7 linked regions of the Homo sapiens genome follow. The protein of the gene in region 1 purifies or fractionates together with the protein of each later gene. This does not show direct contact. Each region holds a gene or a part of one and is shown in the gene's direction. Other genes may lie near its edges. The genes, in order: GMCL1, A2ML1, SERPINA12, SULT2B1, DSC2, JUP and POF1B.

Region 1 (3,500 bases):
ACAGCAGTGTGGTGAGACAATGAAGGAAACAGTTAATGTGAAAACTGTATGTGGCTATTACACATCAGCAGGGACCTATGGATTAGATTCTGTAAAGAAAAAGTGAGTTGCCTTTCTTGTTTTTCTTCCTATCCCACTTTTAGGAATTTGGTTGCTTTAGTTTCTTAAGAGAATGTATAGCTATAAGAAAGAAAGAATTAAGGAAAAATAGGATAGGGGGATGGAATTTTATTAAATAAAAAGCCCCTTTTAACTTTTGGACTAATTAGTAAATTCCTCAAAAGTGTCGTCTTTGTAAGTGACCATAGGTGGGTTATATACATGCTTATAAAAACCATGGTCACCTTGGTCGGGTGTGGTGGCTAACACCTGTAATCCCAGTGGTTTGGGAGGCCAAGGCAGAAAGATCACTTGGGCCCAGGAGATTAAGACCAGCCTGAGCAATGTAGGGAGACCCCATCTCTACAAAAAATTTTAAAAATTAGCCAGGCATGGTGGCATGCACCTGTGGTCCCCACTATTCTGGAGGCTGAGGTCAGAGGATTCTTTGAGCCCAGGAGGTTCAAGACTGCAATGAGCCGTGATCATGCCACTGCACTTTATAGTATATTTTCTATTAAAATTGTTTAAGAAGTAGGCCTGATAGACTGACAGTCCTTCTAACTCTTGAGAGTTGCAGTACCTGTTTTGAGATTTTAAAGAAGGTTATACTAGTATGCAGACCCCTTAATAAACTATTTAACACAAACTCAAAATGAAGTTTTAAAACTGGAAATGCTCTCGTTAATATAAAGGAAATATTCTCTTAATAATATCCACTGACAAAAATAATACTAAATTTCCTATTGTTAAGCTAAAAGTTTTGAGCATGTTCTGGCAAGATTAATCTGATTTTATTTTAACTATAAGTCCTACTTAATAAATTGTAAATACATGGCATATAATGTAATAATTATATATTTTAATTTCAGGTGCCTTGAATGGCTTCTAAACAATTTGATGACTCACCAGAATGTTGAACTTTTTAAAGAACTCAGGTATTTGAATTTCAAGTAACTTCATAATTAGTCATCCTAAAATATTGTTTATCATTTGTTAAAGTACATAACATTTTTGTAGAACACAAAAATATATTATGAAAAAGCAAACAATTTAATGAAAGGGCTTGACTACATCCATAAACTGAAGAAATGCTGTGCAAACTTATTTCTTTGTTGTGAATAATATAATGGATATTATGTCTACTGTTTTAACCGAAAAATGCATTACTGTTATAAGACTATAGAAAAGTTTCAGGTTTTGCCAGGCTGTTAGAGAATTTAAAAGTTATATTTTAAAAATCATCTTTTTTATTGAGAAATAAGTTTGAAGAAACTGTTTTGGCCTTTTTTTTTTTTTTTTTTTACCTTCAAAAACTTTTCATGTTGATCCGTTTTCTCACTAGGATGAATTCTCTGATGTGGAGTAACAAATGTGTGTCTCCTATAAATGTATATTTTTCCATCTCTGATTATTTCACACCTTGAATCCAAATCTGTAGTCCCAGCTACTCTGGAGGCTGAGGCAGGAGGATTGCTTAAGCCATAGAGGTCAAGGTTGCAGTGAGCTGTGATTGCGACACTGCTCTCCAGCCTCAGTGAGAGTGAGACAAGTTACCATGGTTCTTCACCGTCACCTCCTGGTACAAGGTCTTCTGAACCAGGTCAAGGTATTCCCACTCCTGATGAGAGAAGTCTGTGGCCATGTCCCTGAATGTTACAAATTCACAGGCCATGGTTTTAGACAAGCAAAAGCCAATCAGTCCTCAGGGTTTCTCTACCAGAAAAGCGATTTGGGAAAACCTAGACCTATAATCCCAGCACTTTGGGAGGCCAAGGTGGGAGGATTGCTTGAATCTAGGAGTTCGAGATCATCCTGGGCAACATAGTGACATCCCCTCTCTTTGAGAAAATATCAATCTTCCTTTAAAAAAAACCTGTTAGCGCCACACAGGGTCCCATGCAGGCTTCAGGCTGGGGCTGCAGAGGCTCCTGCAGTCAACTGCGCCGCCTTCGTCCTCAAGCGGGACCTGGTCAGACGCAGCACAGCGCAGAGCCAGAGGTCCTGGAGATGGAGCCAGAGGTCCAAGATTTCTCCATCACCTGTGGACTATGTAGTCCAAGCTGGAATAATAGGACCGCAGTCACCCGTGAGAAATGGATTCCAGGGTTCTAAAAACCTACAAGAAATATGGCGGTGACAATGAGGACTGCCCACCCTGCCCACCACCCAAGCTGCAGAGCAGCCTTTCTTTTTTAAAGAGATGGGGGCCTTGGTATGTTGCCCAGGCTAGACTCAAACTCCTGAGCTCAAGCAGTCCTCCTGCCTCAGCCTCCAAGTAGCAGGGATTATAGGCACATACCACTGCACCCAGCTTAGTTTGGCTTTTTGGATTAAGTACGCATATTATCCATTTATTCCTGCAGCAAGTACTTCCTGACTGTCCTTTATATGTAAAGATACTCTATTAGGGGCTGTGAAGAATGCAGAGATGATTTTGTCATGGTCTCTTGCTGTCAAAGAGCTTATTTGTAGTAATGGGACTAAGATATTTGTGATGGGTCTGAGAAAATCTGGCTAGCAGTTAACTTTTGAAGGCTGGTTGGCATTACAGTCATTTTCTGGCTTGCATTTCCCTGACAGCAGTGCTTCTGAGACAAGGATACAAATGTGTCCGAGAGTATGTGACATTCTGATGGAAATGTACAAAACCAAAGTCAAACATTACATAGCTTCCCAGAATGTGAATTTTACTGATTTTTTTTTTTTTTTTGGTGGGGAGGAGGTGGGGAAGAGGTAAATATTTTTATGTTTAAATACATTATGGAATAGAGGGAATTCAAATTTCCTTGAACTCTCAAGATACAATTTATAGAAATGTTACTTTTTATGGTTAGACCACCTCCTAGATTATGGGGTTTTTTTCCTTTCTTTTGCCTTTACGAGATAATTTGGTAGAGAAGTGTGAGAGACTTTCATCACCTGGTGATGTCAAGGCATAAATAAATCACCGTAGAATGTTTGATTTGAAAATCGTTAGAAACACTTTAATACAGTCAACCCTGCTTATCCATGGGTTCTCCATTTGTGGATTCTACCAACTGCCGATTGAAAAGATTTGGGGGAAAAACTATAAAAAATAATAACAAAAAAACCCAATGTAGTATGACAACTATTGCATAACATTTACATTGTATTAGGTACTGTAAGAACACCTAGAGATGATTTAAAGTATATGAGAGGATGTGCATAGGTTACATGCAAATACTATGCCATTTTATATAAGGGACTTGAGCATAGAGGATTTTGGTATTTGTAGGAGGTTCTGAAACCAATCCCCCACAGATACAGGGGGATGACTCTAATTTCTCACTGAACTTTTTGAAAAAGGAGCAGGATCCTCTTAAAAACCCACGTGCTCTCTTGGCTTTTTATGGCTCAAAGGAAAGAAAGAACAAAGG
Region 2 (3,500 bases), on another chromosome or scaffold:
CTTTGGTTTCTTGTGCTCCTTGGGTATTACTCAAGAAATCTTTGCCCAGACCAATGTTCTGGAGAGTTTCCCCAAAGTTTTCTTATATATAATAGTTTCATAGATTGAGGTATTAGATTTAAATCTTTCATCCATTTTGACTTGATTTTTCTATATGGAGAGAGATGAGGGTCTAGTTTCATTCTTCTGCATATGGATATCCAATTTTCCCAGAACCATTTATTGAAGAGCCTGTGCTTTCTCCAGTGTATACACTTGTCACCTTTGTCAAAAATGAGTTCACCCTAGACATGTTTCTGGGTTCTCTATTCTGTTCCATTGGTCTATGTATTTGTTTTTATGACAGTACCATGCTGTTTTGGTTACTATAGCTTTGCAGTATAATTTGAAGTCATGTAATGTGATTCTTCCAGCTTTGTTCTTTTTGTTCAGAATAGATTTGGTTATTTTAGGTCTTTTATGGTTCCATAAAAATTTTATGATTTTTTTTACAAAAGTCCTAAGATTTAGGATGTAGAATTTCTGTGAAGAATGTCATTAGTATTCTGATAGGGATTGCAATGAACCTGTAGATTGCCTTAGGTAGTACGGAATTTTAACAATATCAATTCTTCCAATCCAGAAACATGAAATCTCTTTTCATGTTTTTGTGTGTCCTCTTCAATTTCTTTCATCAGTATTTTATAGTTTTTATTGTTGAGATCTTTCACTTCTTTGGTAAAGTTTATTCCTAGGTATTTTATATTATTTATAGCTATTGTAAATGGAATTATCTTTCTTAATTTCTTTTTCAGATTGTTCCCTGTTGGCATATAGAAATGTTACTGAATTTTTTTTGTTTTTGAGACAGAGTCTCCCTCTGTTGCCCAGGCTGTGGAGTGCAGTGGCGGGATCACTGCTTACTGCAACCTCTGCCTCCTGGGTTCAAGTGATTCTTGTGCTTCAGCATCCCAAGTAGCTGGGAGTACAGGCATGCGCCACCATGCCCAGCTAATTTTTGTTTTTGTTTTTTTGTTTTTTGAGATGGAGTCTCATTCTGCCGCGCAGGCTGGAATGCAATAAATGGTTGCTCATTGCAGCCTCTGCCTCCTGGGTTCAAGTGATTCTCCTGCCTCAGCCTCCCGAGTAGCTGGGTTTACAGGTGAGCGCCACCACCCCTGGCTAATTTTTGTATTTTTGGTAGAGATGGAGTTTCGCCATGTTGGCCAGGCTGGTCTCCAACTCCTGACCTCAAGTTATCCTCCCCACTCAGCCTCCCAAAGTGCTGGGGTTACACGCGTAAGCCACCACGTCTGTCTTCTTGCACTTTTAGGATTCTTTTTTGTTTTTTATTCCTTGATGTTTGGGAGTTTGATTATTAAATGTCTTGAGGTAGACTCATTTGGGCTAAATCTGCTTGGTGTTCTATAATCTTGTAATTAATATTGATATCTTTCTCAGCTGGGCTCAGTGGCTCATGCTTGTAATCCCAGCACTTTGGGAGGCTGAGGTGGGCAAATCACCTGAGATGAGTATTTCGAGACCAGCCTGGCCAACATGGCAAAACCCTGTCTCTACTAAAAATACCAAATTAGCCAAGCAAGGTGGCCTGTGCCTGTAATCCCAGCTACTGGGGAGGCTGAGGCAGGAGAATCACTTGAACCAGGGAGGCGGAGGTCACATGAGCCAAGATCACATTACTGCACTCCAGCCTGGGCAACAGAGCGAGACTGTCTCAAATAATAATAATATTGATATCTTTCTCTAGGTTTGGAAAGTTCTCTGTTATTTTCACTTTGAATAAACTTTCCATCTCATTTTCTCTCTCAACCTCCTCTTTAAAGTCAATACCTCTTTTTTTTTCTCTTTGTTAAATTTATCTGATAAGATTCTGAATTCTTTCTCTGTGTTATCTAAAATTTTGTTGAGTTTCCTCAAAACAGCTATTTTGAATTCTCGATCTGAAAGATCACTATCTTTGTTTCTGGGAGATTGGTTGCTGGTGCCTTATTTAGTTCATCTGGTGAGGTAATTTTTTCCAACATGGTCTTGATGTGGATGTTCATTGGTGTCTGGGCATTGAAGAGTTAGGTATTTATTGTAGTCTTGGCATTCTGGACTTGTTTGTACCTGTCCTCCTTGGGCAGACTTTCCAGGTATTTGAAGGGACTTGGGTGTCGTAATCTAAGTGTTTGGACTCTGCAGTTCATCTGCATTAGGGAGGACCCCATGCTCAGTATCTCTGTGGCTCTTGAAGGCTCATAGAGGTACCTCCTTGATGGTCTTGGATAAGATCTGGAAGAATTCCAGATTACCAGGAGGAGACTCCTGTTCTCTTCCCTTACTTTCTCCAAAACAAACAGAGTTTCTCTCTTTGTGCTGAGCTGCCTGGAGAGAGGGGTGACACAAGCACCCCTGTGGCCACCAGCATTGGGACTGCACTGGGTCAGATCTGAAGCCAGCACCGTACTGTGTCTCACCCAAGGCCTGTGGTAACCAGTACCTGGCTACTGCCCATGTTTGCTCAAGGCCCTAGGGCTCTACAGTCAGCAGGTGACAAAGCCAGCCAGGCTTGTGTCCTCCCCTTCAGGGTGGTGAGTTCCCCATGACCCTGGAAGGTCCAGAGATGTAATCTGCGAGCCAGGGCCTGGAGTCAGAAACCTTAGGAATCTACCTGGTGTTCTGTTCTACTGCAGCTGAGTTGGCACCCAAGCCATAAGACAAAGTCCTTCCCACTCTTCCTTCCCCTTTTCACAGAGGAGTCTCTCTCTGTGGCCACCACTACTCCAGGCCCACAGGAGTACTGCCTGGATACTTCCAGTATTCTCTCGAGGCCCAAAGTCTCCTTTCACCAGCTTGTGGTGAATGGTGCCTGGCCTGGGACTCTCTTTTCAGGGCAGTGAGCTCTCCTCTGACAAACAGCAGGTCCAGAAATGGCATCCAAGAGCCACAGCCCATAACTGGCGACCCCAAGGGCCTGCTTGGTGCTGTACCCCACTGTGGCTGAGCTGGTACCTAAGCTGCAAGACAAAGTCCCCTTGACTCTTCCCTCTCCTTTTCTCAAGTAGAAGGAGTCTCTCCCCATAGTCACCACAGCTGGGAATGTGCTGAATCACTGGAAGCCAGCATGTCTCTGAGTCTCACCCAAGGCCCACGACAAGTACTGCCCAGCTATCACTGCTGAGTATTTAGAGCCCCAGGGGCTAATCGGAACTCAGCTTCCAACCGCTGGGATGGGCAGTTCACCCCTGGCTAACGCTGGTCTAAATGCTCCCTCCATGGGCACTGGCTGAGTTCTGCCCTGTGTGCTTTCCCCTGTGATTGGGCAGCATTGCATTCTAAAGCCAAGTCCCACAGTCACTGTGCTCTCCCGCCCTCAAGCTCATCGATTCTGTCTCTGTACCACAGTCACTGCTGGGGGATGGCGGGGAGGGGGTGAATCAGCAATTCAAGTGTGTCTTTTCTACCCTCTTCAGTGCCTCTTTCAGTGATATAAAGTTAAAACCAGGCACTGTGATCAC
Region 3 (3,500 bases), on another chromosome or scaffold:
CAACAAAACCCATGAAGTATCCAAAGTAAGTTATACAAATAATAGTTGAAGAATAAAAGAGAGTAAATATTTTTCTTTTTAAAACATAAACTGATATTAGATTAATGCTAAGCCTACAGAATTCCTCCCAGGCACTTGCTTACTGATAGATTTTGGGGGAAAAGGTAAGAGTTGGTGTTGGGTTTAAGTCTTGGGGACTTAGTGTCAGCGTGGACATACATAGTGCCTTGAAAGTGGCTGGGCTAGTGGCCTCTAGTAGCCAGAGCAGTGAAGGGGATGTAGCAGAGTGGGCAGTTTCCACTTGGACAGGTGTCAGATGTCCTCTTCTCTGTTCTCTTTCCCTCTTCCACCTTGTCCCTGTCATCATTCCCCATGCATCTCCATAAAGGTATTTACTAAGAACCTCTGCCACACCTAACGTCCTGTCAGGCACCAAGGACGGTACCAAGAGAGGTACAGATGATGCTAGGACTGAGCTTAGTAACCCATGGGTGGTAACTGAACTGATGCAACTCTTTTCATGCAGAACACTGTCTTGGAGGCATTCCAGAATGCATCTCTTATATCTAGAGTGAGCTGCAGACTTAAGAAAGGGAAATTCTGGCCGGGCGCGGTGGCTCACGCCTGTAATCCCAGCACTTTGGGAGGCCGAGGCGGGCGGATCACGAGGTCAGGAGATCGAGACCATCCCGGCTAAAACGGTGAAACCCTGTCTCTACTAAAAATACAAAAAATTAGCCGGGCGTAGTGGCGGGCGCCTGTAGTCCCAGCTACTTGGGAGGCTGAGGCAGGAGAATGGCATGAACCCGGGAGGCGGAGCTTGCAGTGAGCCGAGATCCCGCCACTGCACTCCAGCCTGGGCGACAGAGCGAGACTCCATCTCAAAAAAAAAAAAAAAAAAAAAAGAAAGGGAAATTCTGATTCCGAATGCTTCCAATTAAGTCATGGTACTGGGATGGAGGAGCCAAGTAGCAGAGCATCCCAAGAGCGTTGCCATCCCTTGAGATCTGCATAGTCTCACCTGCCCTTCCCACTGGGAACCAGGGAGGTGGAAGGGTTGGCAGAGTCTGGCCACTGAAACAAAAGGAGGGGTCCAGGTTACAACCTTTAGCTGAGACCTGGTCTTCTCATCTATGGTGTGTGGCCATAATATCGCCAACACCACAGTACTCTTGAGAGAATTAAATGTGCCTTAGCACAGCATTGCCCCACAGAAAACATATCCAAATGCAAATTCCTCTTTCCTTCCCATTGTCTAAAGAGGCAGAGCTCCAAGGTTCTCAGCAGAACTTTTGAACTTCTGGTTTATTGAATGACAGGTGTCCTGCAAATCTGACCCTCTTACCCTCAGGTTGAAGCCCTAGGGTGGCTGCTCTTCCACTGCAGAAGATGTTCCCAGTGGGAGGGGCGGGTGAGGCTGTGCAGATCTCGAGGGATGGCAGCGCTCTTGGAATGCCCTGTCACTTAGCTCCCCCCTTCCATAAATGTGACTTTATTGAAAGCATTCAGAACCAGAATTTTCCTTTCTCAAGCCTGCAGCTCACTCTAGATATCAGAGATGCATTCTGCAATGCCTCCAAGCCATGTTCCGTGTGAAAGGAGTCACATCAGTTCAGTTCAGTTACCACCCACGGGTTCCCCCATGTTGTCTCAACATGGGGACATCCCCAAAGGGACTGACGTGTTTCAGCCTGCACTCTACAGATTTTTAGAGTTCACAGAGATGTCTTGAGAGATCTCCCTAGGGAACTGGGGGGTGTAGAACATGAAGAGAAGGTAAGAAATGGGAGGGATGCCAGGTCTTCCACCCCACTTCATCCAGAAGTCTGGCTTTGTGAGACATGGACTCCAGAATATGACATTTCCCGTAGGACTCAAATTACAGTGGCTTGAGACTCTGCAGTTGATTTGCTGGAACTCACTGTCCTGAGTGCACTCCACCCCTATCTCCAAGCCATGTCTGACAATTTCTCCATGGGGCTACAGCTCAGGTGCTACACTGGGGGCTTCACATTCCCCTCACTGAGGCCCTCTGCAGCCCCTGGTGCTGTGACCACCATCAGGCCACCACCAACCACACAGATGTTCCCTGGGCACTGCCACCATCTCTCTGGCTTCAGGCTTCATCTCCTTTTGCACCTTTACACAAGAGTGAAATAGAACCTTTGAGATTTTCTGTAGGCTAGTGCCAGACTTCCTGGAGGTTTGGGAATAACAGAACCAAAGCTCCTCACAGGGACCCAGGATAACTTACAGCGCACAGAAGCGGCGTCTTGTGAAGTCCAAGTGTAAGCTGCTCTCAGTGGCGTCTCGTGAAGTCCAAGTGTAGAGTGTAGGCTGCTCTCAGTGGTGTCTTGTGGAGTCCAGGTGTAAAGTGCAGGCTGCTCTCAGTGGCGTCTTGTGAAGTCCAAGTGTAGGCTGCTCTCAGCATCTCTTCCAGGGCACCTCCTTCCATTTTTCTAGTGCCTGGTCTGCCTCCCCCATCCCTCTGGGACTGCTTTCCGCATCTCCTTGACTTGAGGCCAGGCCTCCCCACCAGGAGGGCCATAGAAAGGAAGGTTCCTCTCACCCCAGGGATGTCTTGCCTACCCAGTCACTTCTGGCCTTGGAATGACAGACAGGGTATTGTCCACCTTCCCGAGAAGAAACTCCAAATCCTCTTGCAGGACAGGGGGCTTGCTCACCGTCCCCAGGGAATTACATTTCATTAGAACATGATAGGAACAAACATTCCTACCTTCTGAGCTCATTATTTCTGGGAGATAAGTGGTCAAGTTGCTTTGATCTACAGGTGGGAAGCCTAGTCCAGAGAGCTCAGTGGCCCGCTATGGGAGAGCAGAGGTGGACGGGCTATCCCTATGCATTCTTTCTGCAGTCCTCTCCAGACTGGAGGGCCTAGAAGACACTGAGCAGAAAAATCACCTTTTCCCTAAAAGAAGTAACCAAGTCAACAGACACACACCAACTTACATGTGTGTAGAACATGTCAGAATTTAGGCTTCGGATGACTTCCACCTGGCCTCTGTGCAGGAGGCAGACACCTGCTTTGGATTTGCATAATTTGAGGCCAGGTGCTGCTCTGATTTCCCCAGAGGAAAAGCTCTGTTTCCCAGGGTCCACCTTTAGGAGCAGAAAACTGCTGGTGGCTTTGAAATAGCCATTGTCCTGTTCAGAAGTGTCGAGGGTCCACTCCCAGCCTGGGTGCCCCCCACACATTTCCGTACATATTGGTATATGCACTCACCTGTCAGCACAGCTGCACTTAGTGCCTTCCCACGTTGGCACAAACTAAAGCCGATCTCCTCATTTACGCACTGGACCTACGGCCCCCTGCTACTCAGGAACATCACCCTAGAAATCCTCTCCTCACTTTCCTACATCAGCATATGTTTTTCTCTCTTCTGAATCATTTCCATCAGATACAAAGATGCCCTTATCTTTCCTATCATGAAACCTCGCAGGGGGCCAGGGAAAACTTACAGCTCATAGAAGTGGCTTCT
Region 4 (3,500 bases), on another chromosome or scaffold:
ACCTCGGCCTCCCAGGTTCAAGCGATTCTCCTGCCTCAGCCTCCCAAGTAGCTGGGATTACAGGCACCCGCCACCATGCCTGGCTAATTTTTATATTTTTAGTTGAGACAGGATTTCACCATGTTGGCCAGGCTGTTCTCGAACTCCTGACCTCAGGTGATCCACCCGCCTTGGTCTCCCAAAGTGCAGGGCTTACAGGCGTGAGCCACCGTGCCCGGCCTATCTACTCTATTACTTTGAATTCCCTGGCCACGCTTGTTCCCTGCCACAGTGCCTTTGCTTATCTGGCTCCTTCCATAGGGATCCCAGAGACATCTTCTCTCTCTCTCTCTCTCTCTTTGCTTATCTGGCTCCTTGCATAGGGATCCCAGAGACATCCTCTCTCTCTCTCTCTCTCTCTCTCTCTCTCTCTCTCTCTTTTGAGACAGAGCCTTGCTCTGTGGCTCACACTGGAGTGCAGTGGCACAATCTCGGCTCACTGCAATCTCTGCCTTCTGGATTCAAGTGATTCTCTTGCCTCAGCCTCCAGAGTAGCTGGGATTACAGGCATGCGCCACCACACCCAGCTAATTTTTGTTTTTTTTTGGAGATGGAGTCTTGCTCTGTCACCCAGGCTGGAGTGCAGTGATGCGAACTTGGCTCATTGCAACCTCCGCCTCCCAGGTTCAAGCGATTCTTCTGCCTCAGCCTCCTGAGTAGCTGGGATTACAGGCACACTCTACCATGCCCGGCTAATTTTTTGTATTTTAGTAGAAACGGGGTTTCACCATGTTGGCCAGGCTGGTCTTGAACTCCTGACCTCAGGTGATGTGCCCACCTCGGCCTCCCAAAGTGCTGGGATTACAGGTGTGAGCCACCGCGCCCGGCCTAATTTTTGTATCTTTAGTAGAGAAAGGGTTTCGCCACTTTCGGGACTTTGCGTGCACCAGCGCAGTGTCCTTTGCCTGGGCTGACCTCTGCCCTCTCTCCTTCCTTTGCCAAACTTCTCAGGCGTTAAGATTCAACACGGGCAATTTAGGATTTTTGGCCAGGGGAATGAGAGAATGCAGGCAGACACCCACGCCAGGTCCCAGGTCCCTGATCACGCTGGTCTAGCTTCAAATCTGCCCCGTGGCACCAAAATATTGGCCTGTTCGTGGATAGGAAATGAATGTAGGAAATCTGTGAAAAGGACGTCAAGAATGAATGAATGAATGGAGGCTCCATTAAGCAACCTCTGAGCCGGAGCTTCCAGGATGAGTCAGGGTTAGCAGACGGGGAGGAGGGGCAGGGAGTGCTGGGAAAGGGAATGGTTGGGGCACAGGGACACAGGTGGCTTCAGGAGAGTAAGGGGCAGCTGGGTCAGGAGAGGGCCAGCTGCCGTGGAAACTCCCCGTGGTGGGCCATCCTGCAGCAGACCTGAGTGGCTCTCAAATGGTTCGTTTTTTAAGCACCTCCAGGGAGAGAAACTATTGTTTTCAGAATACACGCATATGTGATTTAAAAAAAAAAAAAAAGTTGCCAGCTCAGTGGCTCACACCTGTAATCCCAGCAGTTTGGGAGGCCGAGGCAGGTGGATCCCTTGAGGTCAGGAGTTCAAGACCAGCCTGGCCAACATGGTGACACCCCATCTGTACTAAAAATAAAAAAATTAGCCAGAGTTGTGCCACACACCTGTAATCTCAGCTACTCAGGAGGTTAAGGCAGGAGAATCGCTTGAACCCAGGAGGCGGAAGTTGCAGTGACCTGAGATCCTGCCACTGTACTCCAGCCTGGGCAACAGAACAAGACTCTGTCTCAAAAAAAAAAAAGTTGTCCTAGGCCAGGCATGGTGGCTCCTGTCCATTGCAGTACTTTGGGAGGCCAAGGCAGGAGTATCATTTGAGGCCAGGAGTTCAAGACCAGACTGGACAACACAGCAAGACCCCGTCTCTAAAAAAATAAAATAAAAACCAAACAAGGAATTGACCAGAATTTAATTCAGGATAGCAGCTCAAGGGACGGGTAGATGCCACAGGAAGGGGCCCAGAGATATCAGCAAGATGCATCGCTCAGAATGTTCTAGTTTATGGGGTTCATTATGAATTATGAGAAATTTAATATGTGAGATCGGGCTCTGTGGCTCATGCCTGTAATCCCAGCACTTTGGGAGGCTGAAGTGGGCGGATCACTTGAGGTCAGGAGTTCAAGACCAGCCTGGCCAACATGGTAAAACCCCGTCTCTACTAAAAACACAAAAATTTGCCAGGCGTGGTGGCACTTGCCTGTAGTCCCAGCTACTGGAGAGGCTGAGGCAGGAGAGTTGCTTGAACCCAGGAGGCGGAGGTTGCAGTGAGCTGAGATCGCATACTGCACACCAGCTTGGGTGACAAGATTGAAACTCCATCTCAAAAAAAGAAAAAAGAAATTTAATATGTGTTCCATGTGGTCTTGTATGTAAAAAGGACTTAAAAGGATAATAAGGGCTAAATTAAAATCGTAAGAGGCCGGGCACGGTGGCTCACGCCTGTAATCCCAGAACTTTGGGAGGCCGAGGTGGGCGGATCACCTGAGGTCGATAGTTGGAGACCAGGCTGACCAACATGGAGAAACCCCGTCTCTACTAAAAATAGAAAAAAGTCAGCCGGGCATGGTGGTGCATGCCTGTAATCCCAGCTACTCGGGAGGTTGAGGCAGGAGAATCGCTTGAACCCAGGAGGCGGAGGTTGCGGTGAGTCGAGATCGTGTCATTACACTCCAGCCTGGGCAACAAGAGTGAAACTCTGTCTCAAAAAATAATTAAAATTAAAAAAATTAAAAAAAATAAAATCGTAAGAGGAAAACATTTGGCACAGGCGGTAGGCAGGATGGGCTGCTGACCCAGTAGGCTGACAAGCCCAGGATGTTATAATCCCTGTAACATCCTTGCAGTTGTTCTCAACCTGTTGAGTGCTGTCTGTATTACCTCATCTAATCCTTACAGCCGTCGGAGATTAACCCATTTTAACTACTATCATCCCCTGTAAGAGGTGAGGCCCAGAGAGGTTGAGTGACTTGCCCAGGGTCACACAGCTGCCAAGCAGGGCGTAGCCAGGATTTGAACCAGGGAAGCCTGACTGTATCACGCCCTGGATGGGGAACTTGGGGATGAGCAAGACCCGGAAGGAGCGAGATCCGGGAGGGAGACTCAGCCCAGACAGGAGGCGTTAGCAGGCGCTCTGCGGTTCCAGGCGTTTCCTTGCATTCCCTGCGTGCTGGGCTACGGAGAGTGTCAAGGCCAGAGAAGCCACGCCGGCCTTTGGACCTGGGGCGCCTCGGGCAGCCAAGGAGAGCTGCGGTGGCCGCTCCTCCCCGCGCTCTGATCTCGGGAGTCCCTGGCGCCGGCACCTTCTGATCTCTGCCTCTTATTGACGGGGAGGGCGAGGAGGGGCCAGCTCTGGTTTTACAACCCCGGCCCCACCTTCCTTAGGGAGGGCTGAGCCACATGAATGATTTTATGGCCAAAGCCCTGCCAGTCATGAGGCTGCTTTTTCTTTTTTCTT
Region 5 (3,041 bases), on another chromosome or scaffold:
TCCCTTTGTGACTGTACCTTTGTATCCCTACAGAAAATCTGGGCATAGCTGAGAGGTTAGAATTGTGGAGTTTCTGCTAGCCACATCTTTTCTGTTTACTTATTTTGTTAGGATTCAAGGGAGAGGACAGAGCAGAACACTCACTGCTTTTCAGTTAACAAATATGAAGGCAAACTTGCTGATATATTCGCTTGTATAATTTTTAGAGTGTGTTTCACTGACCATCAGCATCAGAATCACCCTGGTGTTGCTGAAAATAGAGATCCCTCATGAATCAGTCACAGGAGTAACAGGCTAGTAGGGGAAAAGTATAGAAGCCTTCACTTTTCAATACATTTTCTAGGTCATTTTTTCTTACTCTAAAGTTTGACAATCGTTAGGGTTTTAGTAACTGGGTTTATTGATTATTTGGTGGTTTATGAAACTTAAGTATTTAAAATTTGCCTTTTCATATAAAACATATTAAGCAAAATGCTAGAAATGTACCAAAGAGTTGAAACACATTGATGAGTAAAATTTCACAATGTCTGCAAATTAAGCATTTCAGAATGTACATTGTTCCCTGTGGTTTCTACTTTCTACATGCATGTGAACGAGAGAAATAGTCTTAAGGTAGGAATGCAGAACAAAGCCACACAGAAAACATTTAATAAAAATTAACAAGTTTTGCCACATAAATGCTGCTAGTCAAGAAGATGTATGCAAAGTAAGTTGCATATATTTTTAAAAATCAGAATTGCCAAATCTCCAGAGATAAATAGAACTAGAAAGGTCAACAGCAGGTGGAACAAGTGACTGTCCAGAAGGCAGCAACTGTTTGGCATCACTGTGCTGTTGTGTGGGGACCTGTGTCAGGTGGGGTAACAGGTAATGCTCACTGACTGTGGCGGCCAGGAGCTTCAGAGGGGCCTGTGAATCAGGGATGGGAGATGAGGGTAGAGACGAGACTTTTCAGCTTAAGGAGTGTTCCCCTGGGAACAGGGCCAATTGGAAAACTCCCAGGCACCAAGGACATGAGTTAACCAATAGGGAATGAGAGGCTCAGAAAGCCAGAGGTGAAAGGAGCAGAGGGTGTCAATATACACAAGATGTGATGCAGAATTACCAATGAAATCAAGTAAAAGGGATTTATCCAAAAGAAGTAAGAGAATAGTGTAAAGATTCTACTCACATGCAAGGATGTTTGTCTCAGTGGCATTAAATATATGAATAACTGAAAATAAACTAAATGTTCCATGACAGGGAAGTAATTAAATGATGTATGATCCATTACTGTGATACAATGTACCATAATTGAGGACAATGGAAACAATGATCACACACAGACTTCGCAGTCAGAAAGACGTGGATCCAAATCTCAGCTTTGTTCTTGCTGTGTTACCTTGGGAAATCACAGAAACCTCAAATTTCTAGCATATCAAATAAGGACAAATTAGGAATAAATTATATAATTCACATAAAGATCCTAGCTTACTGCTTGGCTCATCAGTATATCAATAACCAGCAGCTATCACTATTGTGATATGATGATGGAATATCATGCAATCATTTTATTTTGAAAACTTTAATTAAATGGGAAAAGACATAAACTATAGTAGTATTTTAAAACTAGGATAGGTTTCCAAATTATTATAATCTCACATTTAAATAAATATGAGACTATCTGTAATACACTAAGATATTGAGTGATAAATCCTCGGTAAATGAAATATTTATTCATTGTGTGTTTCCATGTTTTCATTTTACCACAAGCATTTATAATTTATAACATTGAGGGAAAAGTTCATGTAAATGAAATACAGAGCAAGAAAAACTCACAGGCTTTAGAATTTGGGGAGCTTACAGGCCTGTGAAGAAAAGCCTTTTCATCTTAGCTTTAATAAATAAAGTTTTCACTGAACATATTATATTTACAGTAAATGATTAAATTGAAAGCAAAAAGAAAATACTGTATCATCTCACATTATCATAACTGAGTGCATTCATGTGCTTTTGGTCTTAAAATTTTACTTTAACGCACTTAGGATTTGTCGTCAGTAATTTGTTATGCACTATCTAGACTAAGAATAGGTATTAATTTACTAGAATTGTCAAATGAAATATTTCAAGCAAAGTTTGCATAATGAATGCAAGTTTAAACCAATTAAATGTGTTCACTTTTTAGCAAGCTAAGCTGCTCCTTATTTCTCCTGTAGTAGACACAATCACAGTTAATCTTTGCACAATGCATCGCATTCTCCATGCAACCTAACAGAGCGGTCTGGGATAGAGCCTGAACTTTGGGTCCCTTGGGGCCCAACAGGCAAGGTTCAGATCTGGGCTCTACCACAAACCATCTGTGTAACCTGAACCTCCCTAGTCTTCAGTTTCCTCATCTGCTTTAAAAAATTGCTAGAACATAGTTCTATGTAAATGTTCGGTGTTAAAATTTATTTGGTATCTACTGTATGTAAGATATGGCCTCTGCTCTCAAAAATATGTAGTCCCAGAAGTGATATAATATGTTCACGGAGACGTACTATTAAAAAGTGCCACAAAAAATCTGTAATGGAATGTTCTTACAAATATTACGTGTGCGTGTGTGTGTGTGTGTGTGTGTGTGTGTGTGACCTTTTTTAGCAAGAGATGTCCCAATCCCTTCACATTTACATCATTACAGAATTCCTTTGGAATCAATGGCAAATGTCCTCCTGTGGGGAGCCAGGTGTACTGTGAGTTTCTGTTATCATTCAGGGAAGAAAGCTGTCAAAAGCTTGCTTGTTTTAAAATTGTAAACAAGTTAGTGCTGGACATTGGGAATTTTACCTTATTATAATAAACAAAATCAATTTTGTTACTTGTTGAGCCTTGTTCCGGCGGCAGTTTAAGTTATTTATTAAACAAATAAATTGAGTCCTTTTGAGGTTTCTTCTTAAGTTTTCTTAGGGCAGGTTTGGTGGAGACTTTAGGGCTAACTTAAGTCCTTTGCTGAGGTGTGACTCCACCAAATGTCCAGAGTTTTCAGAGGAAGATCTTTTCTTTCCACTGCCTCAAACTTCAAT
Region 6 (3,500 bases), on another chromosome or scaffold:
CCTGACCTCGTGATTCGCCCGCCCCGGCCTCCCAAAGTGCTGGGATTACAGGCGTGAGCCACCTCACCTGGCCCAAACCAAGCACTTTCATTAACTATTTTTACTTAATCCTTATGGCTGGCCAGGCTGGATGGCTCAGACCTGCAATCCCAGCACGTTAGGAGGCCCAGAAGGGTGGACTGCTTGATTGAGCCCAGGAGTTCCAGACCAGCCTGGGCAACATGGAGAAACCCTGTCTCTACAAAAAAATAGAAAAATTAGCCGGGCGTGGTGGTGCATGCCTGTGGTCCCAGCTACTGGGAATGTTGAGGTGGGAGGATTACCTGAGCCCAGGGAAGTCAAGGCTGCAGTGAGCTGTGTCACTGTATTCCAGCCTGGGCAACAGAGTGAGTCCCTGACTCAAAAAAAAAAAAAAAACAAAAAAAACGCGTATCATTATTCGCATTCTACAGAGGAGGAAATTGAAACTCAAGGAACTTAAGTAATTTCCCCAATGTTGTACAGCGAGACCCAAGCAGCACCAAGACTGACGTTTGGGTCCTCTGATTCCAAGCCCAGAACCCATCCTGCTGTATTGCCCCATGCAGCTCTGGAAAGGATTTTTTTTTTTTTTTTGAGATGGAGTCACGCTCTGCCACCCAGGCTGGAGTGCAGTGGCGCGATCTCGGCTCACTGTAACGTCTACCTCCTGGGTTCAAGCGATTCTCCTGTCTCAGCCTCCCGAGTAGCTGGGATTACAGGCATGCACCACCACACTAGGCTAATTTTTGTATTTTTAGTAGAGATGGGGTTTCACCATGTTGGTCAGGATGGTCTCGAACTCCTGACCTTCAGGAGATCCGCCCGCCTCAGCCTCCCAAAGTGCTGGGATTACAGGTGTGAGCGGAAAGGATTTTTCTGCACCCCCTTTTGAGAGCCTCTGCCTGACTGGGGAGAAGAGAATTCAGAAGGGCCCATGAAGGCATGTGTGAGTGGTGAATGTAGGGCAGGTTTTGTAGGTGGGGGTGATACCTGTCCTGGCCACCAGCCCACTTAAATCTCCCCAGTGGCTTGATTTTTAGTTTCCGGTGGAAGCGGCTTCTCCCCAAGGCCAGGGCTGTGGTGAGTGTTGGGGGGAGGTTGAGAGGGAAAGAGGAGGCAGGGGTCAAAGCTGTGCTGCCTCCTAGCTTGGGTTAGGTAGAACCATGGCTGTTCTGGGCTTGTTCATGTGTAGGAAGTGGGAGTTGCCTGCTTTGCTGGGGGCTGGGGCTATGCCAAGATAAAGGGGTGCTGCCCTGTGGGGATTGGCGAGAAACGAGAGTCCGATTTAGGCCTGGGCTAATGTCCTGCTGGAGTTGACGAGGCAGTGCTGCCAGGCTGCTCTTGATGGGGAACTGGCTGTCCTCTGCTCTGAAGCCCAAGAGACCTGAGATAGGCAGCTGCTGGGAGGGCTTTTCTGGTGATGGAGGTGGGGGTCATGTGTGCTGCCTGTCAGCCAGAGCCTTGGCCCTCTAGGGAGGAGCTGGTGTCAGATTGTTCTCCAGACCTGCCTGGTTCTGGTGTCTCTGCCAACTGGACATCTGACACCAGAATGGGCCTGGATTTGGGGTCTGGGAAATGGGTTCTCTTTATGTGATGGTGCAGCCGGAGTACTGAACCTGTCACTACCGCGCTTCTGGATTCCCTGAGGGCAGGCGGGGACCCCAGGCAACGGGATTATTGATCGTGGAGAAGGCTAATGGGACTTGAGACAGAGAAGAAAACAGAATGAACCCCATCCCACTGACTACTACAAAGAGGGCATGAGGTTGCAGTTTTTCCATCTCCCCCGAGGACTTGAGAGCTGCAGGCCCGATGCACTTACTGAAGGGACGCAGTCTAGACAGGAGGAGGGGCTTTCTGCCTGCTAAAGATGAAATCTTGAGTTGAGAAATAAGAGGGAGAGGTGGAGACTCAGCATTGACTCTTCTCTGATGAGGGCCATCCTGTGCGGCAGGGAGGCCAGACAGGAATTGCTGCCCTTTGGGGAGACTCCTCATTTGTATCTTTTGGGAGAAGAGCGACCTGGCAGTGAGAGGGAAAGGCATCTGTGAGCTGGTCCTGTGACCCCTGTGAAGAGGAAAAGCAAGCAGTGTGGCTGGGCAGGTCACCAGGGCTTGTGTTCCTGCAAGTGACACTGAGCGGCCTCTCCTGGGACATGGTTGAGTCTGGGGACATGGAATATCTTATTGTGAAGCGACTTCCTCTGCCAGGCCTGAAGGGCAAGCTCATGGACCACTCTCCTTTGCTCAGCCTCCTGGCATCTTGGCCTTTGGGGCCAGCAGAGCAGGAAGCTCAGCTTTCTTTTTCTCTTTCTTTCTTTCTTTTTTTTTTTTTGAGATGGAGTCTCTCACTCTGTCACCCAGACTGGAGTGTAGTGGCACAATCTTGGCTCACTGCAACCTCCATCTCCCGGGTTCAGGTGATTCTCCTGTCTCAGCCTCCCGCGTAGCTGGGACTACAAGCGCCTGCCAGTACGCCCAGCTAATTTTTTTTTTTTTTTTTTTTTGAGACGGAGTCTCACTCACTCTGTCGCCCAGGCTGGAGTGCAGTGGCACGATCTCCGCTCGCTGCAAGCTCCGCCCCCTGGGTTCACACCATTCTCCTGCCTTAGCCTCCCGAGTAGCTGGGACTACAGGCGCCCGCCACCACGCCTGGCTAATTTTTTTGTGTTTTTAGTAGAGACGGGGTTTCACTGTGTTTGCCAGGATGGTCTCGATCTCCTGACCTCATGATCCACCCGCCTCGGCCTCCCAAAGTGCTGGGATTACAGGCGTGAGCCACTGTGCCCGGCCTAATTTTTGTATTTTTAGTAGAGACGGGGTTTCACCATATTGGTCAGGCTGGTCTTGAACTCCTGACCTCAGGTGATCCACTCACCTTGGCCTCCCGACATGCTGGGATTATAAGCGTGAGCCACCGCTTTTGGCACTCAGCTTTCTTTCCTCCTCCCTTCTCCTCTTCTCTTTTCTTTCTTTTTTTTTTTTGGTTTGTTTTTTGAGATGGAGTCCTGCTCTGTCGCCCAGGCTGGAGTGCAGTAGTGCAGTCTTGGCTCACTGCAACCTCTGCCTCCTAGGTTCAAGCAATTCTCCTGCCTCATCCTCCTAAGTAGCTGGGACTACAGGCATGCGCCACCATGCCCAGCTAATTTTTGTATTTTTAGTAGAGATGGGGGTGTCACTATGTTGGCCAGGCTGGTCTTGAATTCCTGACCTCAAGTGATCCACCCACCTCAGCCTCCCAAAGTGCTGGGATTACAGGCGTGAGCCACTGCGCCCGGCCTTCTTTCCTTTTTTTGAGGTAGGGACTCGCTCTGTCCCTTAGGCTAGAGTGCAGTGGCGTGATCACAGCTCACTGCATCCTTGAATTCCTGGGTTCAAGCAATCCTCCCGCCCAGCCTCCCAAGTAGCTGGGTCCACAGGTGTGCACCACCATGCCCAGCTAATTTTTAAAGTTTTGTGTAGAGACAGGGTCTTGCTATG
Region 7 (3,500 bases), on another chromosome or scaffold:
TTTTTTTAACCAACCACATTAGTTAGGACTCTTTCTGTTTCATGTGACAAGAGACCCAATGTAAACTGGGACTTTTTAAATTCACTTAAATGGGGTTACTTGGTATCCAGATGGATTTGTGTGTTCAAAATATGCCTTTATAAATATGTCTTTCTTTATATCTTGGCTCTGCTCTTTCCTGTGTAGACATCTTAATCAGGTAAGGTCTACCCTCACGGTAGCAATATGACCACAAATTACATTCCAGCCATTTAGCAAAACCAAATATAAAGTAATTATGAATAGCTTCAGCAGAAGTCTATTTTGGATATTTCATATAAATGAAATAATACAACATATAGTCTTTTGTGTCTGGATTTTTCATTTTGCATAATGTTTGCAGGATGCAAGCATGATTTAGCATGAGTCAAGACTTCATTCCTTTTGGTTGCTAAATAATATCCAGTTGTATGGATATACATTTTATTTATTGATTAATCAGTTGGACATTTGGGTTGTTTTCAATTTTTGGCTATTGTGAATAATGCTGCTGTGAACGTCTGTGTACAAGTGTGTAAGGTACATGTATTCATTTCTTTTGAGTATATACCTAGGAGTGGAATTGATAGGTCACATGATAACTCTATGCTTAAGGAATTGCCATACTGTTTTCTAAAGCAAAAGCACCATCATACATTCCTAGTAGTGTATGACGGTTCCACTTTCTCCCCATCCTCGTTGCCATTTGTTATTGTTCATCTCTTGGATTATGGCCATCCTAGGTGGTGGAAAGTGGTATCCAATTGGAGTTTTGATTTGTATTCCCTAATAACTAATGTTTTTTAGCAATTTTTATGTGCTTATTGGCCATTTATACATCTTGTTTGAAGAAATGTCCATTCAATTTTTTTCCATTTTTTAAGTGAGTTGTCTTTTTATAGTTGAATTGCAAGAGATTTTCACATGTTCACAAGTCCCTTATCAGAGACAAGATTTGCAAATATTTTCATCAATTCCATGGGTTGTCTTTTCACTATCTTGAGAGTATAATATGCAGCATAAGTATTTAATATAGAAAAAAATCCAATTCATCTATATTTTTTCTTGCTTGTGCTTTTGGTATTATATACAAGAAACTGTTGACTAACCCAAGATCATAAATTTTACATTCATAAGTATTTTGTCTTATATTAATATAAACTGTCTTCTGGTTACTAATTGTATGAAATATCTTTTTCTGTCCTTTCATTTTTGACCTATTTGTGTATTTGATTCTAAACTGTGACTCTTGTAAACCACACATGGTTGTATCTTTTTATACATTCTGCCAATCTCTGCTTTTAGCTGGAATATTTAATGCACTTACATTTAATGTAATTCATAAGTTAGAATTTACATTAGCTATTTTGCTATTTGTTTCTATGTCTTATGTTTTTTGTTCTTCTGTTCCTCCATTCCTGCCTTCTTCTGTGTAAAATATTTTCTACAGTAACATTTTAATTCCATTTTAGTTACTTTTACTATATTTTCTGAGTTTTTCCCCTTAGGTTTCCCCCAGAAATTTAATTAATATTTACCTGTATAGTTACCTTTACTGGTGATCTTTATTTCTTCAAATGGATTTGGGATGCTGTATAGAGTCCTTAAATTTCAGCCTGAAGGACTCCTTTAGTATTTCTTGTAGGACTCCCTTTAGTATTTCTTGTAGAACAGGTTTTGCAGTGACAAATTCTTTGGGTTTTTGCTTGTATGGGAATATATTGCTTTTCCTTCATTTTTGAAGAATGGTTTTGCTGGATAAAATAATTCTCAGCTGACAGTGTTTTTTTGTTACTTGGAATATGTCATCCCATTGCCTTCTGGCCTCTATAATTTCTGATGAGAAATCAGTTGATAATTTTTAATTGAGGATCCCCCTGACATGTTTCTTTTTTACTGCTTTCAAGATTATTTTTTTCTATGGCCCTTGACTGTTTGATTATTATGTGTCAAGGTTTGGATCTCTTATTTTTCACTATTTGGCATTTGCTGAGCTTCTTTGATGTGCAGATTGATATTTTTAATCAAATCTGGGAAGTTTTCAGACATTTCTTCAGCTATCATTCCTGCCACTTTCCTCCCTCTCCTTGTGGAGTCCCCATAAACAGAACAGAATGTTCTGAGGCTCTGTTTATTTTTCTTCATTCTTTTTTCTTTCTGTTCCTCAGAATAGATAAACTCAACGGACCTTCTTTGCAATTTGTTGATTCTTTCTTCCATTTGCTTACATCGGCTGTTGAGAAATTTAAATCTAGTTATTATCTTTTTTACCTCAGAATTACTGTAGTTTCTCTTAAAAGTAATTTCTCTTTCTTTAATAATGTTCTTTATTCCATAAGCCACAACTCTCATCCTTTCCTTTAGTTCTTTAGTTCTTTGAGCATACTTAAAATAGCCAATTTAAAGGCTATGTAAATGCAACATCTGGCTTCTTAATGGATAGTTTCAAGTGATTTTTTCCATGATAGGCAATATTTTCTTGTTTCTTTGCATGTCTTATAATTTTTTATTGAAAACGTGACATTGAAAATAATATAATGTGGTAACTCTGGAAATTAGATACTCCCTCCTGCCAAGGTGTTCATTGTTGCTATTATTTGCTGTTGATGTTATTGTCTTTTGCTTAGTGGCTTTTCTGATTTAATTCTATAAAGTCTGTATTCTTTTCATATGTGGTCACTGAAGTCTCTGCTCATTTATCTTAGTGGTCAGTTAACATTTAAACAGAGGTTTCGTTACAAACATGAAACTAGTAAGTCTCCTAGTTTTCACTGAGAGGCTCTTTGTCTGTGTTTGGACACCTCTTCAATGTTCTGGTAGGCAATTTATAGCTCGTCCTTAGCCCCCAGTTCCTGCTTACACAGAGTTTTAAGGTTAGCCAGTACTGAGGGCTCAGGATTTTCTCAGGTCTTTCCTTCACATGCGTACAGCCTTGGGCATGTACAAAGCCCTACACATGCCTGTGGCTTTCTAGATTCCCAGGAACATATAACAAATTTTCAAAGCCCACTATGGACAATTTATTTCTCAGTTTTTCCTTTTATCATTTTTGGTCAATTTCTTGTCTGCCTGAACTATTATAGCCACCTCAGGTAGTTGTGATATTAAACAATTTCCACACATTATTTTCGACAAATGTTCCCAGGAAAAAGGATTTGCAAATTGGTTGAGCTACGAGTCAAGTTTTAAAAGGCATCCTTGCAAGTGGAGTTTTCCACAGAATCAACAGACAAATCAAACAATGACAATTATAACGACAATGTGGCTTTGAAGGAGCTCTAACCTTGTTTTGTCTTCTAGTTGCTGCCAGGCTCCTGGGTTTTACCCAGATTGTTTTAAGGGTCGGGCGCGGTGGCTCACGCCTGTAATCCCAGCACTTTGGGAGGCCGAGGTGGATGGATCACGAGGTCAGGAGATTGAGACCATCCTGGCTAACATGGTGAAACCCCGTCTCTACTAAAAATACAAAAAAAAAATTAGCC

Evidence for each region.
Region 2: the proteins of GMCL1 (region 1) and A2ML1 purify together in Homo sapiens (affinity purification with mass spectrometry; 3 studies listed by BioGRID and IntAct, with this or other methods). This does not show direct contact.
Region 3: the proteins of GMCL1 (region 1) and SERPINA12 purify together in Homo sapiens (affinity purification with mass spectrometry; 3 studies listed by BioGRID and IntAct, with this or other methods). This does not show direct contact.
Region 4: the proteins of GMCL1 (region 1) and SULT2B1 purify together in Homo sapiens (affinity purification with mass spectrometry; 3 studies listed by BioGRID and IntAct, with this or other methods). This does not show direct contact.
Region 5: the proteins of GMCL1 (region 1) and DSC2 purify together in Homo sapiens (affinity purification with mass spectrometry; 3 studies listed by BioGRID and IntAct, with this or other methods). This does not show direct contact.
Region 6: the proteins of GMCL1 (region 1) and JUP purify together in Homo sapiens (affinity purification with mass spectrometry; 3 studies listed by BioGRID and IntAct, with this or other methods). This does not show direct contact.
Region 7: the proteins of GMCL1 (region 1) and POF1B purify together in Homo sapiens (affinity purification with mass spectrometry; 3 studies listed by BioGRID and IntAct, with this or other methods). This does not show direct contact.

Annotation. Positions count from the first base shown.
Region 1 is NC_000002.12:69,843,160-69,846,659, forward strand, and holds part of GMCL1 (germ cell-less protein-like 1), read left to right. Parts: coding exon 1-102; intron 103-971; coding exon 972-1,037; intron 1,038-1,425; exon of another isoform or gene 1,426-1,708; intron 1,709-3,500. UniProt on the Homo sapiens protein: Possible function in spermatogenesis. Enhances the degradation of MDM2 and increases the amount of p53 probably by modulating the nucleocytoplasmic transport.
Region 2 is NC_000012.12:8,825,621-8,829,120, forward strand, and holds part of A2ML1 (alpha-2-macroglobulin-like protein 1 isoform 1 precursor), read left to right. Parts: intron 1-3,500. UniProt on the Homo sapiens protein: Is able to inhibit all four classes of proteinases by a unique 'trapping' mechanism. This protein has a peptide stretch, called the 'bait region' which contains specific cleavage sites for different proteinases.
Region 3 is NC_000014.9:94,492,470-94,495,969, reverse strand, and holds part of SERPINA12 (serpin A12 precursor), read left to right. Parts: intron 1-3,500. UniProt on the Homo sapiens protein: Adipokine that modulates insulin action by specifically inhibiting its target protease KLK7 in white adipose tissues.
Region 4 is NC_000019.10:48,555,172-48,558,671, forward strand, and holds part of SULT2B1 (sulfotransferase 2B1), read left to right. Parts: intron 1-3,500. UniProt on the Homo sapiens protein: Sulfotransferase that utilizes 3'-phospho-5'-adenylyl sulfate (PAPS) as sulfonate donor to catalyze the sulfate conjugation. Responsible for the sulfation of cholesterol.
Region 5 is NC_000018.10:31,058,340-31,061,380, reverse strand, and holds the end of DSC2 (desmocollin-2 isoform Dsc2a preproprotein), read left to right. Parts: 3' UTR 1-2,541; downstream 2,542-3,041. UniProt on the Homo sapiens protein: A component of desmosome cell-cell junctions which are required for positive regulation of cellular adhesion.
Region 6 is NC_000017.11:41,780,212-41,783,711, reverse strand, and holds part of JUP (junction plakoglobin), read left to right. Parts: intron 1-3,500. UniProt on the Homo sapiens protein: Common junctional plaque protein. The membrane-associated plaques are architectural elements in an important strategic position to influence the arrangement and function of both the cytoskeleton and the cells within the tissue.
Region 7 is NC_000023.11:85,299,666-85,303,165, reverse strand, and holds part of POF1B (protein POF1B), read left to right. Parts: intron 1-3,500. UniProt on the Homo sapiens protein: Plays a key role in the organization of epithelial monolayers by regulating the actin cytoskeleton. May be involved in ovary development.